2 separate regions of the Homo sapiens genome follow, and region 2 is linked to region 1. Evidence: fine-mapped expression QTL. A gene starts in region 1. The other region holds a variant in brackets. All regions are shown on one strand. Distances are between the middles of the regions.

Region 1 (2,895 bases):
AGTGCAATGGCGGGATCTCAGCTCACTGCAACCTCCGCCTCCCGGGTTCAAGCGATTCTCCTGCCTCAGCCTCCCGAGTATCTGGGATTACAAGCGCCCGCCACCACGCCCCGCTAATCTTTTTTGCTTTTTAAAATTATGAAATGCGGTATACACACAGAAAAGTGCGTGAACACACACATATGTACCATTTAATAGATAGTTATAAAATGATCCGCCCGCCTCAGCCTCCCAAAGTGCTGGGATTACAGGCGTGAGCCACCGCTTCCGGCCTCAGGAGAGGATTCGTGTTTGCTTCTCCCAACGTCCAGGGAAGCGACATTTCCTATTTGCTTTAGACTAAAATCTATACTTGAATTTTTTGTTTACTGTAGGTAATATTAACTAGGGTTGCAGTCCGTGGAGGGCCGACTATGCGAACGGTTTCTATGAACCATCCTTTGCTGAAGGCTGAAACCTCTTCGTCCCCTGGGAGAGTTCCTATTCAGGCCTTCTTGTAGTTAGTTCATCCTTGTGTTGACAGCTGTATTAGGGTTCTCCAGAGAGACGGATCCAGTAGGATATAGACGTAGATCCAGGACAGGAGATGGACTGGGGGAGCTGGCGTTTGCAATTACGGAGGCCGAGAAGTCTGTGAGCCGGAGACCCCGGGACTCGGGTAGCCGGGCTCAGCCCAGGTCGGAAGGCCTCAGAAGCGGGGAAGCGGATGGTGTGGCCCTCAGCACGACCCACCCCAAATCATGCCTTGCCAGGTTTCTGGGAATTCCTGGTCCAGCCCAGCTGGCACCTGACACTGGCCGTAACGGCAGGGCCACTGTTAGCTGTTAGCCTCAGGGCCCCAGGTTTAGGGGCGGTGTCTCCGTTGCACGTGCACCCCGAGCGCGCCCGCCACTCCCCACATCAGGAGCTCTGTTCCTCGGGTTCAGCAAACGCCCGGGCGAAAGCAATCTTAACATTCTGGGCTCCCGGCACCCAGACCTTGGGCTGATGCCCCTTGCTAGTGGGTCAGCTCTTTAGAAAATATATTCTAACTATTTCCATCAGCATTTCCACTTATTTTGTGCAGGAGAGTTGAACCCAAACCGTCTGGGTCGGGGTCGGTCAGGCCCCGCCCCCTGACGTCATCTCACCCCCACCCAATCCCCCGCGCCTACCTGCCTCCCGGCCCCTCCCCTTCCCGCCCCTCAATCCCAGCGCTCATCTCTGCGGCCACGCCCGCCCCTTCCCGCCACCCAATCCTAGCGCTTGTCTCTGCGGCCGGGCCCCGCCCCCACCCGCCCCCCGCCCAATCCTCGCGCGGACTCATGTTTGCCCGCTCGGCCGCCGTCTCTCGAGTCTCCGCCAGATCCGGGGCGGGTCCGCGGCCGCGGCGGGAACATGGAGGAGCTCCTGAGGCGCGAGCTGGGCTGCAGCTCTGTCAGGGCCACGGGCCACTCGGGGGGCGGGTGCATCAGCCAGGGCCGGAGCTACGACACGGATCAAGGACGAGTGTTCGTGAAAGTGAACCCCAAGGCGGAGGTCAGGCAGCGGGTCGGGCGGGCCGGGGGACCGGTTTCTTTCCGGAGAGGGTCGCGGGCCTCGGCGCGGGGCGCGGCCTGGGCTTCTCCCGCCGGAGGCCGTGGGTGGCTCTCCCGGGACTGCCGCCGCCGCCCCTTGCGGGGAACCCTTTGCGCGGGGCGAGCGGTGAACGGGGGCGGCGGAAGCGTCCGGGGCGTCCGGAGGAGTTTGCACCTGCGGGGAACTGTCCGGAGCAGGAACCGCGGCCGCCCCACACCTCCTGTTCTCCGTGAACTTTCTCTCGGGGGCGCTACGTGAAATGGGGCGGGACTGGCTGCTGCAGTCTTGCTCCCGGGGTTCCTGCCCTGCGGTGCTGGTTAAGTGGGGTCGTTCTAGCCGGGGAAGCTGCTTAAGTCCTCAGCTTAAGTGACTCTGGAGGTGTCCATCCCCCGTGAGCCTCGGTCAGTACGTTGTGAAACGGGGCGAAGGTGCTGCCCCCAGGCCAGCTGCTGCGCCTCACCACACCCTGGCATGCTCTGTCCTTCTGTTAGACTCATTCTCGGGCCGGGCGCGGTGGCTCACGCCTGTAATCCCAGCACTTTGGGAGACAGAGGTGGGTGGAGCGCGAAGTCAGGAGTTCGAGACCAGCCTGGCCAACAAGGTGAAACCCCCGTCTCTATTAAAAATACAAAAATTAGCTGGGCGTGGTGGCGGGCGCCTGTAATCCCAGCTACTCGGGAGGCTGAGGCAGAAGAATCGCTTGAACCCAGGAGGCAGAGGTTGCAGTGAGTCGAGATCGCGCCACTGCACTCCAGCCTGCTGGGTGACTGAATGAGACTCCGTCTCAAAAAAAAAAGAGTGTTCCTAGCAGCGGTGACATGGCAGCTGTGGTGGGGCTCTGAGGCTGAGGAGGTGGGGACTCTGAAGAACTGAAAGAAGGATGAAGACAGCTGGAAGTCAGGAGCACGAGGAGAGTGTGTGTGTCTATGTGTATGTTGTGTGTGTGTACGTTGTATGTGTGTATGTTTGTAATGTTTGTATGTTGTGTGTATGTATTGTGTGTCTGTGTGTGTGTAAGGGTGGAGCCCCAGGTGAGGATGGGAGAGTGGGCAGGGCAGTGGTGTGTGTCTCAGGAGAAAAAGAAAGGCCGCTGGCCCTGACCTGTTCTGCGGGGATCACTGCTGTGTATGTTGTGTGTGTGTGTCTGTGTGTTGTGTGTGTATGGTGTGTCTGTAAGTCGTATGTTGTGTGTGTTGTGTGTCTGTATGTGTTGTGTGTGTGTTGTGTGTCTGTATATGTTGTGTGTGTGTGTTATGTGTCTGTGTGTGTAAGGGTGGAGCCCCAGATGAGGATGGGAGAGCAGGCAGGGCAGTGGTGTGTGTAGCAGGAGGAAAGGAA
Region 2 (2,895 bases), 220 kb after region 1:
TTGCCCAGACTGGAGTGAATTGGTGCGATCTCAGCTCACTGCAACCTCTGCCTCCTGGGTTCAAGTGATTCTCCTGCCTCAGCCTCCCTAGTAGCTGGGATTACAGGCATGTGCTACCATGCCCAGGTAATTTTGTATTTTTAGTAGAGATGGGGTTTCACCATGTTGGTCAGGCTGGTCTCGAACTCCCGACCTGAGGTGATCTGCCCACTTCTGCCTCCCAAAGTGCTGGGATTATAGGCGTGAGCCACCGTACCTGGCCTAAAATATTGACATATATTTTTCTGGCTTAAAAATTTCAAAATAAGCCTGGGCGCCATGGCTCACGCCTGTAATCCCAGCACTTTGGGAGGCCAAGGCGAGTGGATCACTTGAGCTCCGGAGTTTGAGACCAGCCTGGCCAACTTGGTGAAACCCCATCTCTACAAAAAATACAAAAACATTAGCCGGGTGTGGTGGTGCCTGTACGGCTTGGGCCTGGGAGGCGAAGGTTGCCGTGAGCTGAGATTGAGCCACTGTGCTCCAGCCTGGGCAACACAGCCAGACTCTGTTTCAAAAAAAAAATTTTTTTTCCAAGATAGGATGGTAGAGAAAATACCTCCTGCCATGTCCTGCTATGAATACAGCTTTGTATTTCTCTCTACAGTTTTGTCAGTTTTGGCTTTTCAGATTTTGAAGCGTGTTTGTGGGCTGAATCTTGCCCTTATCACCCATTTCTAGGATGCTTTTTGCTCCACTCATTCTTTGTCTTGCTTCACTTGACTTTGAACTGTATACTTTTTTCCATCGTTTTACTTTCAGTATCTTCATACATGTATGTTTTTGTACGCCTCTCTTAGAACAGTGTATGGTTTTGTAAAAATTCAGCCTGTAGCTTTTACCTGCCTCCTTCATGACCTTTATAATCCCCTTGGTTCTCAGCCTGCCACTCACAGGACTTTTCCCTGTGCTGCGTTCCCAGTGCCCCCTCCCCGCCCCCACCTGTGCTTTTTGTTGGATTAGTAGAATTGCTTTTGTCATTCCATTGTTTTCATATATTTGTTTGGGACATTTTACTTTTTTCTGTTAACGCTTACCCTAGAAATTAGAAATGACACCACGTATTCTTAGCGAAGTCCAGTTTTCAGCATTTTGTCCTTATTGGACAATAGCAAGGATATTAGAACGTGTTGGTTCCGCGTGCTTCCGTCTTGAGTTATGTGCTGCTATTGTCGGATATTTTGTCTTAGATGTACGTACTTTCCTGTTCATTGTGGTATGTGTAATTTGCGTTACTTTGAATTTTCCACGTTTTTACTTTCTTTGTCTCTCATCACTTACTGCTTTTGGGACCCCCCCCATCGGGGTTCACATTCCCTCTCCCTAGAGCACACTCCCTTGGATTTCCTCGAGTGGGGTCTGCTGCGGTGAAGCTTTCCCATTTTATGTGCAGATTATTTTCAGAGGGTATATAGAATTCAGGCAGCTGTTTCGTTGTAGCACATTAAAAATATTTTCCCACTTCCTCCTTGCTTCTGTTGTTGCTTTTGAGTGTTACCTCTGAGTCTGCCTGTGCTCCCTGGAAACGGCCCGGGTTTCCCACCCCCTGCCCAGGTTTGCTCCTTCC[C/G]TGGTTTTTCTGTCATTATCACGCTCACGTGTTTCCCTCGGTCACCCCCTCTGCAATTTTCACACGTCTTTTCCCTCTCTCTTTGCTTCATTACCTTTGGCCCGCCTGCCAGCTGCTGATTCTCTCTGAAGATGTCTCTAAATGACTTTTAACTGTGATTTGTGGAATTCTTATTGTGGAGTTTTGCGTCTTTTCAGGTGTAGGTTTTTTGTCTCGCGTGTTTCCACGTCTGCTTGTAGCGCTTTCCGCTTCGCCGTTCCCTGCGGCCCTTCCTTCCGTGCCCGGTGTTCATCCTCTTGAATGCTCTTTTCCTGCCTGTTTGGCTGGGTGTGTCTGAGTTGCAACCTGAGCGGGTTTCTTTGTCTTCTTACTTGTCTGGTATTGTGTTCTCTCGGGACGTTGCGTTTGAGGGGTCGCACCTCAGAGCAAGCCGAGGTCTGGGCTAAGCCTGTGCTTTGGCAGGCAGGACCTTAGTTTGCCTTTTCTGGGCACCTGAGGAGAGGGTAGCAGCAGCCTGGGGTCTCCTTGACTCACGGTCAGCAGTGAGGGTTTCCTGGCCTGTTGGGTGGCTGGAGCTTGGCTGCATTCCCCACTGAGAGAGGGAGGTGCGCACCTTCTCCTCCCTGGAGTGGCCTTCCAGGTGCCCTCTCAGAGCTGCTCATCAGGGCTGTGCCTTTGTCAGCACCAAGCCTCAGCCCTTGTCCCTGCTGCCACTGAAGGCTCAAAACAACACTGCACAGCCTTGTGTGTCCTCTGTGTGTCGGCAGTTTCCCCCGGCTCTGCAGCAGCCCAGGCCAGGTAGCCTCTGGAGGGAGTGGTGGAGGAGCACGGGCATCCTGGCCGCCGCTGTGTTGGGGACAGACCCTGGGGCCTGGAAAGGGAGGTGGGGCCCCGTGGGGGCTGCTGCACCACAGGCAAGAGAGCAAGAGACAGCAGAGGCCGGCCAGGTGGTGGCACAGCCGCTAGGGACCAGGCCGGCCTGTGGAGGTATTGGGATGGGGACCAGCGGACTTGCTGGCAGAGGGGCCTCAGGGCTGCAGGCTTCTTGGACTGAGCCACTGGGAGGACGGAGTTGACCTTCTTTGAGACAGAAAAAGTGTGCATCCCGGGGCTGCCTGTGAAAGCTCATCTCTAAAGTGTGTGTTGTTCTTCCAGCCACCCCTTTGCTGTGAAGTTGCTTGCGCTCTGTAAGAAAGAAATCAAGAATTCAAAAGATATCCAGAAGCTCCTGTCAGGCATCGCAGTGTGAGTTTCAAGTGCTGCTGGCCTTAGACGGAATGGCAGGGCGC

The links. PIP is the estimated chance that this variant, and not a neighbour inherited with it, causes the effect.
Region 2: its variant is the best candidate, but not a certain one, in a credible set for the expression of FN3KRP in monocytes after LPS (Fairfax 2014, PIP 0.62).

Annotation. Positions count from the first base shown.
Region 1 is chr17:82,715,379-82,718,273 of GRCh38, forward strand. FN3KRP (fructosamine 3 kinase related protein) reads left to right here and starts at 1,328. Exons shown (of 6, transcript NM_024619.4): 1 at 1,328-1,518. The coding sequence starts at 1,378. LOC101929552 (a long non-coding RNA gene) reads right to left here and starts at 875. Exons shown (of 2, transcript NR_136400.1): 1 at 189-875. RefSeq lists silencers at 1,145-1,384, 1,405-1,484, 1,565-1,654.
Region 2 is chr17:82,934,510-82,937,404 of GRCh38, forward strand. It overlaps TBCD (tubulin folding cofactor D), which reads left to right. Exons shown (of 39, transcript NM_005993.5): 35 at 2,762-2,851. Among named protein-coding and RNA genes, the nearest start is that of ZNF750, 96 kb to the left of the region's middle. The variant C/G (reference allele first, on the strand shown) is at 1,607.